2 linked regions of the Homo sapiens genome follow. The protein of the gene in region 2 purifies or fractionates together with the protein of the main gene of each other region. This does not show direct contact. Each region holds a gene or a part of one and is shown on either strand. Other genes may lie near its edges.

The links.
Region 1: the proteins of SLC25A17 (region 2) and PTGFRN purify together in Homo sapiens (affinity purification with mass spectrometry; one large-scale study listed by BioGRID and IntAct). This does not show direct contact.

What each region holds. Positions count from the first base shown.
Region 1 is NC_000001.11:116,940,784-116,944,604, reverse strand, and holds part of PTGFRN (prostaglandin F2 receptor negative regulator precursor), read right to left. Parts: intron 2,891-3,821; coding exon 2,522-2,890; intron 1-2,521. UniProt on the Homo sapiens protein: Inhibits the binding of prostaglandin F2-alpha (PGF2-alpha) to its specific FP receptor, by decreasing the receptor number rather than the affinity constant. Functional coupling with the prostaglandin F2-alpha receptor seems to occur.
Region 2 is NC_000022.11:40,812,694-40,816,514, forward strand, and holds part of SLC25A17 (peroxisomal membrane protein PMP34), read right to left. Parts: intron 1,266-3,821; exon of another isoform or gene 1,190-1,265; intron 1-1,189.

The sequences.
Region 1 (3,821 bases), on a different chromosome or scaffold from region 2:
ACCACAGACAATTTCCTCCTCCCTTTCCCATTCCAAGACCCGGATGGGCACGTTTTCCCAACTGGATTCATCTGTAATCTCAATTGACTTTCTGACTTGAAAAAGAAAAATAAAGGTACCAAAAAAACCCCATGCTAGAAGTGGGTGGTAAAAACTCCCTGTGGGAGTCGTGCCTTGGGGATGTGATGTGCTTCTGCTACCCTTAAGGCAAGTTACTTTACCCCTCTGTGCCTCAGTTTCCTAAAAGGAGGATGACAACTGGACCTTCGTCATAGAGTTGACATGAGAGTTAAGTTAAACAGGGTAAGTTCCCAGGACCGTGCCTGGCACTCAGCTGTCATGATAAATCATTGGGTATGACTGTCAAACATTTCTTTGCTTAGGACCAGGGCTAGGCTAGGGAGCCCGCAGAATCTGCAGATAAGGTGACCTTCTAGACTTAAAGTAGCAAGATCCACAGGGGAGAAAGGATGGCATGAGCTGCCTGTGGCTTGCAGCCTGGGGAATGCCCAAGAATGTCTAGGGTGAACACAGCATATCCACATGATAGGAACAGGCCCAGACACTTCTACAGAGTCTAGAAAAAGGGGACGGCGATCAAGGAAGTATGGGTGGTGTACTCAGGAAAAAAGCAGTAGATGGATACTGCTATTCTGGTAACCAGAAAGGGGGCCACTACCAAGCAGCAGGGAAAAATCTATCAGGCTTATCCATGAGCTGGCTAAGAGGACCCTCCAACACCACTATTCATCATCTGTTTTTTTTTCCCCCCAATTCCATATTCAGAAACTAATTCAGTGTCCTTGAGAAGGGGCTATTCTAGATAACATTTAAAAGCTGCTACATTTTTAGGAGGACACATCCTGAAGACCCATCTCTACTGCAAAATAAATATAATGACCTTCTAGTATATGTATCAGTCTGTGAGTCTGGCTAATATGACTCAGTTCTCAAGGCCAGCTCATCTCTCAGAGCACAGATGAATAGTTTCAAGAGCCATGAAGCTGAAGGCCGGGCAGATCCTGGACCACACATGGCAACCATCAGAGGCTCCACCTGGGCAGCAGTCAGTCTCTCTCATGGTCATCCATTGCTTTCCTCACCCAAGAAAGGCCTCCTCTTGTGTCTCCTGCCTTCCAAAGACAGCAGAAGAGGCTGAAAGATACTGGAGGAAGTGGGGTGCGGGTGGGGGAATTCTCCCCTTACTCTCCCTCCCACTCAAGAGGAGACTCCAAGGGGATACAAGGGGGCATCTGGCTTAATGAAAAAGTGGCATGTGGCAATATTTAGCTCCAATACAAGAGTGTCTTTTTCTAAATAACATGTTCTGAATTTTCTATAGGAATAAAGAGGTAGATGGGGTGTTTCATTACCTCCTTAATGGACAGTTTTATCCCCTGATGAGTCTAGTGAGGGAACAGTCTCTGAGCTATGGCAGGGTTCTACAAGTCATGAGGGAATGAATGCCTCAATCAACCCTCGCTTTTTATATCATCATGTGCATTTTCTACTTTCTGATAATTACATACATTCTGACCCAGACATAAATCCTTTTGGGAACAAGGCAGGGTACAAATAAATGCATAATTAAGTAACAATAACAACAATTATAATGTTTCTATTTTCTTAGCCCCAAATTAAAATGGTTTGTTCTTGCTCGTTTACTAATTAGCTGTGTGATTTTAGGAAAGTAATTAACCTATGCTCTTCCATTTCCTCATGTATAAATTAGGGAAATATTCTGCCCTATTTTGATTGGGTTCAGAGAATTGAATGTGTGAGTAAATCTAAAAGGACTTGGAAAATGAAACAAACAAACAAAACCCCCAAAACAAATCCCAAAACATTCCAGGTACATAAGGTGTAATATTTGCAAAGCTAGGTCAATAAGCTAGCAGAGACCACATTACATATAACACATAAAACATCTGGTACAAACAAGTACTTAAATCATGAAAGCCACAGAGAAAGACATGAACTTTGAAGTGCCTGTGATTCCCATAAACCTGAGCATCATTAACATGACCATCCCCTTCCTGTCACTAACCACTGAATGCTTACATGGCACTGCTCTAAGGCTTTACACCTGGTAACTCAGCTGTCCTCACAACCTTTAAGGTTACAGAGGAGGAAGCTGAGGCATGTAACATGCCCACAGCCATGCAGCTGACAAGTAGTAGAGCCAGCAACTGGACCAAACAATCACAGGCAACCTGGCTCCAGAGCCAGCTCTCCACCACCGCATCATGCTGCCTCCACCTCACTGGGCATAGGGTGGCTCAGAACCATACCGGAGTGAAGAGAAAGGGCCCTCTGAGGTCATCTGGCCCATCCCCTGCCTTTAATCAGATAACAATGATTTTTAAATTTTAAGACATGATTATTTAAGACATGATTATTCCCCTGGACAGAGGAGGGAGCAGAGCCTCAGAGAAATTAAGTCTCTTGACAAAGTCCACCACAGCCCAGGGGCAGAGAAAGGTCTGGCCCCTGGCATAACAAGCCCATGTGAGGACTGTACCTTTAACCTGCACTGTGTCCTCATAGTTTCCCTGGACAGTGGCATCTGTGCTGGGGGTTGAACATTTGTAGTGGCCTTGGTCTGAAGGCTGGACGTTCTTTATGTGGAGCTCCACGGCGTCGTTGGCAGTCCGCCTTAACAGGATCTCGCCCCTCTGCAGCCGCTCCTGGTACAGCTGGGCTGGGAACCCCACCTCCCAGGTGCTTGCAAGCTCCACAAAGCTGCTCCCCAAAGATGAGAAGCTCCAGTCAAAGTTTTGCTCGCTGGGGCCATCATAGTCACTGACGTTGCAGGGGATGACCAGCTCAGTGCCCACCACTCGAACCAGGGTCGCTGTGGGGACTCTCACCACACGCCCTCGGCAAAGAGCTGCAATGATAAAAGATGAAAGGCAGGTCTTTAATCACAGAAAGTCTTCCCAGGACAAATGTGGCAAACCTGTGGATGCTCCTGCTCACAGGCATGGCAGAAACGTGACAGCCAAACTACTAGGGAAAATGTATCTATGCAGAAGGTTAAGCCTAACCCTTAAATAATGAGCCAGGAATGCAACCTCAAAATGAGCATCTCTCACACAACCAGTTTCCCAGGACCAACAGGGAGGAAGATAAGCATTAAAAGCAGGCTAACTGTAAACCTCAATAGCTTCTTCCCTCCAGTTACTATTTAACACACCCTAACCACTCCATGTGATGTAAAAATATTTTAGGTTTTGTGTGAAATAAAAGGGCACAGCCAGTCAAGTGTTTACATTTCTGCCCAGCCATCAGCCCTCATCCCTAGAGACCATTCCCTGGGGCTCCTGAGACCTGATTTACAATGACGGATGCCAATTTTTAAATCCTAGAGCAGCCTGCTGATAAAATGATTTAACTCCTGTTATCTGACATTGCCTATAAATTAATTTTAAAATATGATGATTTTACCAAGTATTAATTTTCTATTTTCTGGCTCATTTCCTTCTCTACTCTTTGTTCTGATCTAAATTCAGAATGAGGATGTGGAAGCACAAAGGGAGAGAGGCAGGTTGGTTGCTGGGTGTTCTTAGGAATGCAGCAGCTGGTTGCCGGGTATAAGCCCAGTGGACACAGGCAAGACTTCACTGGTTTTCCCTTCCCTAAGAGTGTGCAATTCCCAGCCCTCTCTGGTAGGGACCCTACAACTGGCACCTGTGAGTCCTTTAAGATGTCTTCATTGCAATGAACTTCAGCATGATTTTGCAGTGTATTTACTACCTGTTTAGCATTTCAATTGCACCAAATAAACACATATAGCTCCTTTGTGATGTTCTTGCAATAAC
Region 2 (3,821 bases):
CACTGCATTATAGAACAGAAAGATTATTTTAAAGCCAGACACGGTGGCTCACACCTGCAATCCCAGCACTTTAGGAGGTGGGAGAATGGCTTGAGCTCAGGAGATTGAGGCTGCAGTGAGCTGTGATCATCCCACAGCACTCCAGCCTGGGAAACACAGTGAGACTTAGTCTCAAAACAAATAAAAATTTAAAAAAATTTTTAAAAACCACCTAAGATGTTTTCTGTGGTTTGAGCTAATAAAATTCTAAAGATTAAAAGCCACTTACAATGGCTTTCATATTTAAAAATGTTATTCACCTCATCAGAGTTAATGTAAGTCTTTTCCCTGACATAACAATCAAGCTAACTCATACATACACAGACAGATAGGCAAGTTACACAAATGGCCTCATGGATGACACTCTCGAGTGTTTAGGGATAAAATATAGGTTTACGTCCCAAGTATAGTATATATTACATAAGTAACTTCAAATCTCTATGTCTCAATTTCCTCATTTGTAATTTTGAGACCGGTATTTGTCAAGGTTGCTATGAGAAGTTAGAATCAAATTATGGAAAGTAGCTGGGCATGGTGGCTCACACCTGCAATCCCAGCACTTTGGGAGGCTGAGGTGGGTGGATCACTTGAGGTCAGGAGTTCGAGACCAGCCTGGCCAACACGGTGAGACCTCATCTCTACTAAAAATACAAAAATGAGCCAGGAGTGGTGGCACACACCTGTAGTCCCAGGTACTCTGGAGGATGTGGCAGGAGAATCACTTGAACCTGGGAGGCAGAGGTTGCAGTAAGCCGAGATCGTGCCACCGCACTCCAGCCTGGGTGACAGAGCGAGACTCTGTATAAAAAAAAAATACCCTCTCTATTAAAAATACAAAAAGATTAGCCGGGTGTGGTGGCAGACACCTGTAGTCCCAGCTACTCGGAAGGCTGAGGCAGGAGAATGGCGTGAACCCAGGAGGCGGAGCTTGCAGTGAGCCGAGATCACGCCACTGCACTCCAGCCTGGGCGACAGAGCGAGACTGAGTTTCAAAAACAAAAACAAAAAATTATGGTTGGCACCTAGCATCATACCAGGCACACAGGTGGCACTCAACAATTGTTGGTTTCTACATGTCCTTTATAGCTATAGTATCTGTTAGTAGTAGAAACCACTGTTAATTTTAGGGCCCTAAAAGGAGTAATGTCTTCTCAAGTTCCTTCCAAAAGAGCAATTGCTATTTAGTAAAAAATAAACACCAACTGCTCTTTCAGAAGGAGCTTCAGAAAGGTAGAAGGGTCAACAGTATAGAATACTTACAAAGAACTGGAATCAATTAAGAATGCAAAAACAGTCAGTAGATGTATAGAGCACTCTTGACATAAGTAACTCCATCTTAGAAAAAGACTCCTATCTTTCATTTCAAAAAGCACTTTGACAACAGGGACCAGATGTTTTTCCAGATAAAGACACAACCAAGCATGCTCTTCCACTATCAGTCCTTACCAGAAGACTCTGTGACCATAAAAAGAACAGGACTTAAAAAACTCAAAATGGTCTTAACAGACACTGTCTTGCTGTCACTTGTTATAAAAGCCTGATATCTGTGTCCAAAGGCTCTGCCCACATCAAGGATTCTTTCTTACAAGACCAACACACTGCCATGATGAAACCAGGATACTTGTCTATATCACTCTCCCCGGACTGGTTAGGTAACCCTTTTTCCTCACCCTTTTCTCTTGATGTTCAATGTTACTTTGTTGCAGAATGTTTAATCTACATCATTTATGTATTAATTAGGTATACTATTATATATGATTTACAATATTGACTGACTACCTAGTGAATGAGAAGTACTAATAAAAATTGCCTCCTTGAGAACTCCATGTAACTTGTCTTTTATAACTGAAATAACACAATAAAAGTCTGACATTGTGAAAAGACACAAATGTGTGTGTACCTGGTTATCCATGACCTTAAACCATTCACAATAGTAGATTAAGCTGTTAGGAAGTCAGAGTTGACCTTTGGAAGAACAGTTCCAGTGGTCAAAGTAGGATGAGGAAAGGCAGTACGTGCAGAATATATATATATATATATATATATATATATATATATTGTTGTTGTTGTTGTTGTTTTGTTTTGTTTTGGTTTTTTTTGTTTTTGAGACGGAGTCTTGCTCTGTCGTCCAGGCTGGAGTGCAGTGGCGCAATCTTGGCTCACTGCAAGCTCCACCTCCCGGGTTCATGCCGTTCTCCTGCCTCAGCCTCCCGAGTAGCTGGGACTACAGGCGCCTGCCTCCATGCCCGGCTAATATTTTGTATTTTTAGTAGAGATGGGGTTTCACCGTGTTAGTCAGGATGGTCTCGATCTCCTGACCTCGTGATCTGCCCGCCTCAGCCTCCCAAAGTGCTGGGATTACAGGTGTGAGCCACCACACCCGGCCCAGAATATTCTTTAAATAAGCTTAGCACAAAGGGAAAGAGAACAGGCAGAGGCTGAAGAAGCTACCAGATTCCAGATCAGATTGGTATAGTTTTCTGATGGGACAGACCTGACCATGTTTGAGGGCTGAACAGAAGCAGATACTAGGTTAAAGCTATAGGAAAGAGATGAAAATTACTGGAGCAAAGTCCTGGAAGAAAACTGGCCATGGGCTGGAGGGGAGGACAAAGATTGAAGGTAGCAGACACTGAATATGTCTATTTTTCCTCTGAGACCAGCAGAATGTAGAAAACACGAGTACAACTGTAATTGGAAAAAACTGAAAAAACTCATCCCAAGTAGGTTCTATTTTATCTAGAGAGTAAAAGGTAAGATCATCTGCAACAAGTGAAGGGAATGGGTGGAGATGGCCATGAGGCAAGAGAACATTTCAATTCCCTTAAATTTCTAAAACTAGGTATAAGTGCTGTATTTGCAAGAATATACTTGAGACAGAAATGAATAATTATGGTCTTACTACAACGTTCCATTATGCTAGATGCTCCACAAATATAATCACATTTACTTCCCACAAGAACCCAGTTAAGTGAGGCATTGTTATTGTCCCTGTTTTATAGTTCGATTGATGATGGCATTCATAGTTAAGCTTTACTACAGAACCTTTTTTTTCAGCTATTATGCCATATTTGCTTCTTAAAAAATTAAGTTATACAATACTATGTATGACGATATAATTTCATTAATCGTTTTTGATTCAGGCATAAACAAAGTTAGAAAAGTAATTCCAGGCCAGGCGCAGTGGCTCACGCCTGTAATCCCAGCACTTTGGGAGGCCAAGGCAGGCGGATCACCTGAGGGCGGGAGCTCAAGACCAGGCTGACCAACATGGAGAAACCCCGTCTCTACTGAAAATACAAAATTAGCCAGGCGTGGTGGCACATGCCTGTAAACCCAGCCACTCGGCGAGAGGCTGAGGCAGGAGAATCGCTTGAACCCAGGAGGCGGAGGTTGTGGTGGGCCGAGATTGCATCACTGCACTCCATGCACTCCAGCCTGGGCAACAAGAGCGAAACTCCATCTCAAAAAAAAAAAAAGAAAGAAAGAAAGAAAAAGAAAAAAAGAGAAAAATAGGCAACAAGTGAAAAAAAGAAGTATCTTTGTAGATTAAATAGAAATATATTACCACTATTGCCAGTCACTCTCTCTATAGCAGGAGTCAGAAAACTATGGCCTATGGGCCAAATCCAATCTAATATCTGTTTTTGAAAACAGTATTTTATTGGAACACAGCTCTGTCCATTCATTTACTGTCTACAGCTGATTTCACACGACCATGGCAATGTTGGGTAGCTGTGACAACGGTACACAAAGCCTAAAATATTTCCCATCTGCTCTCT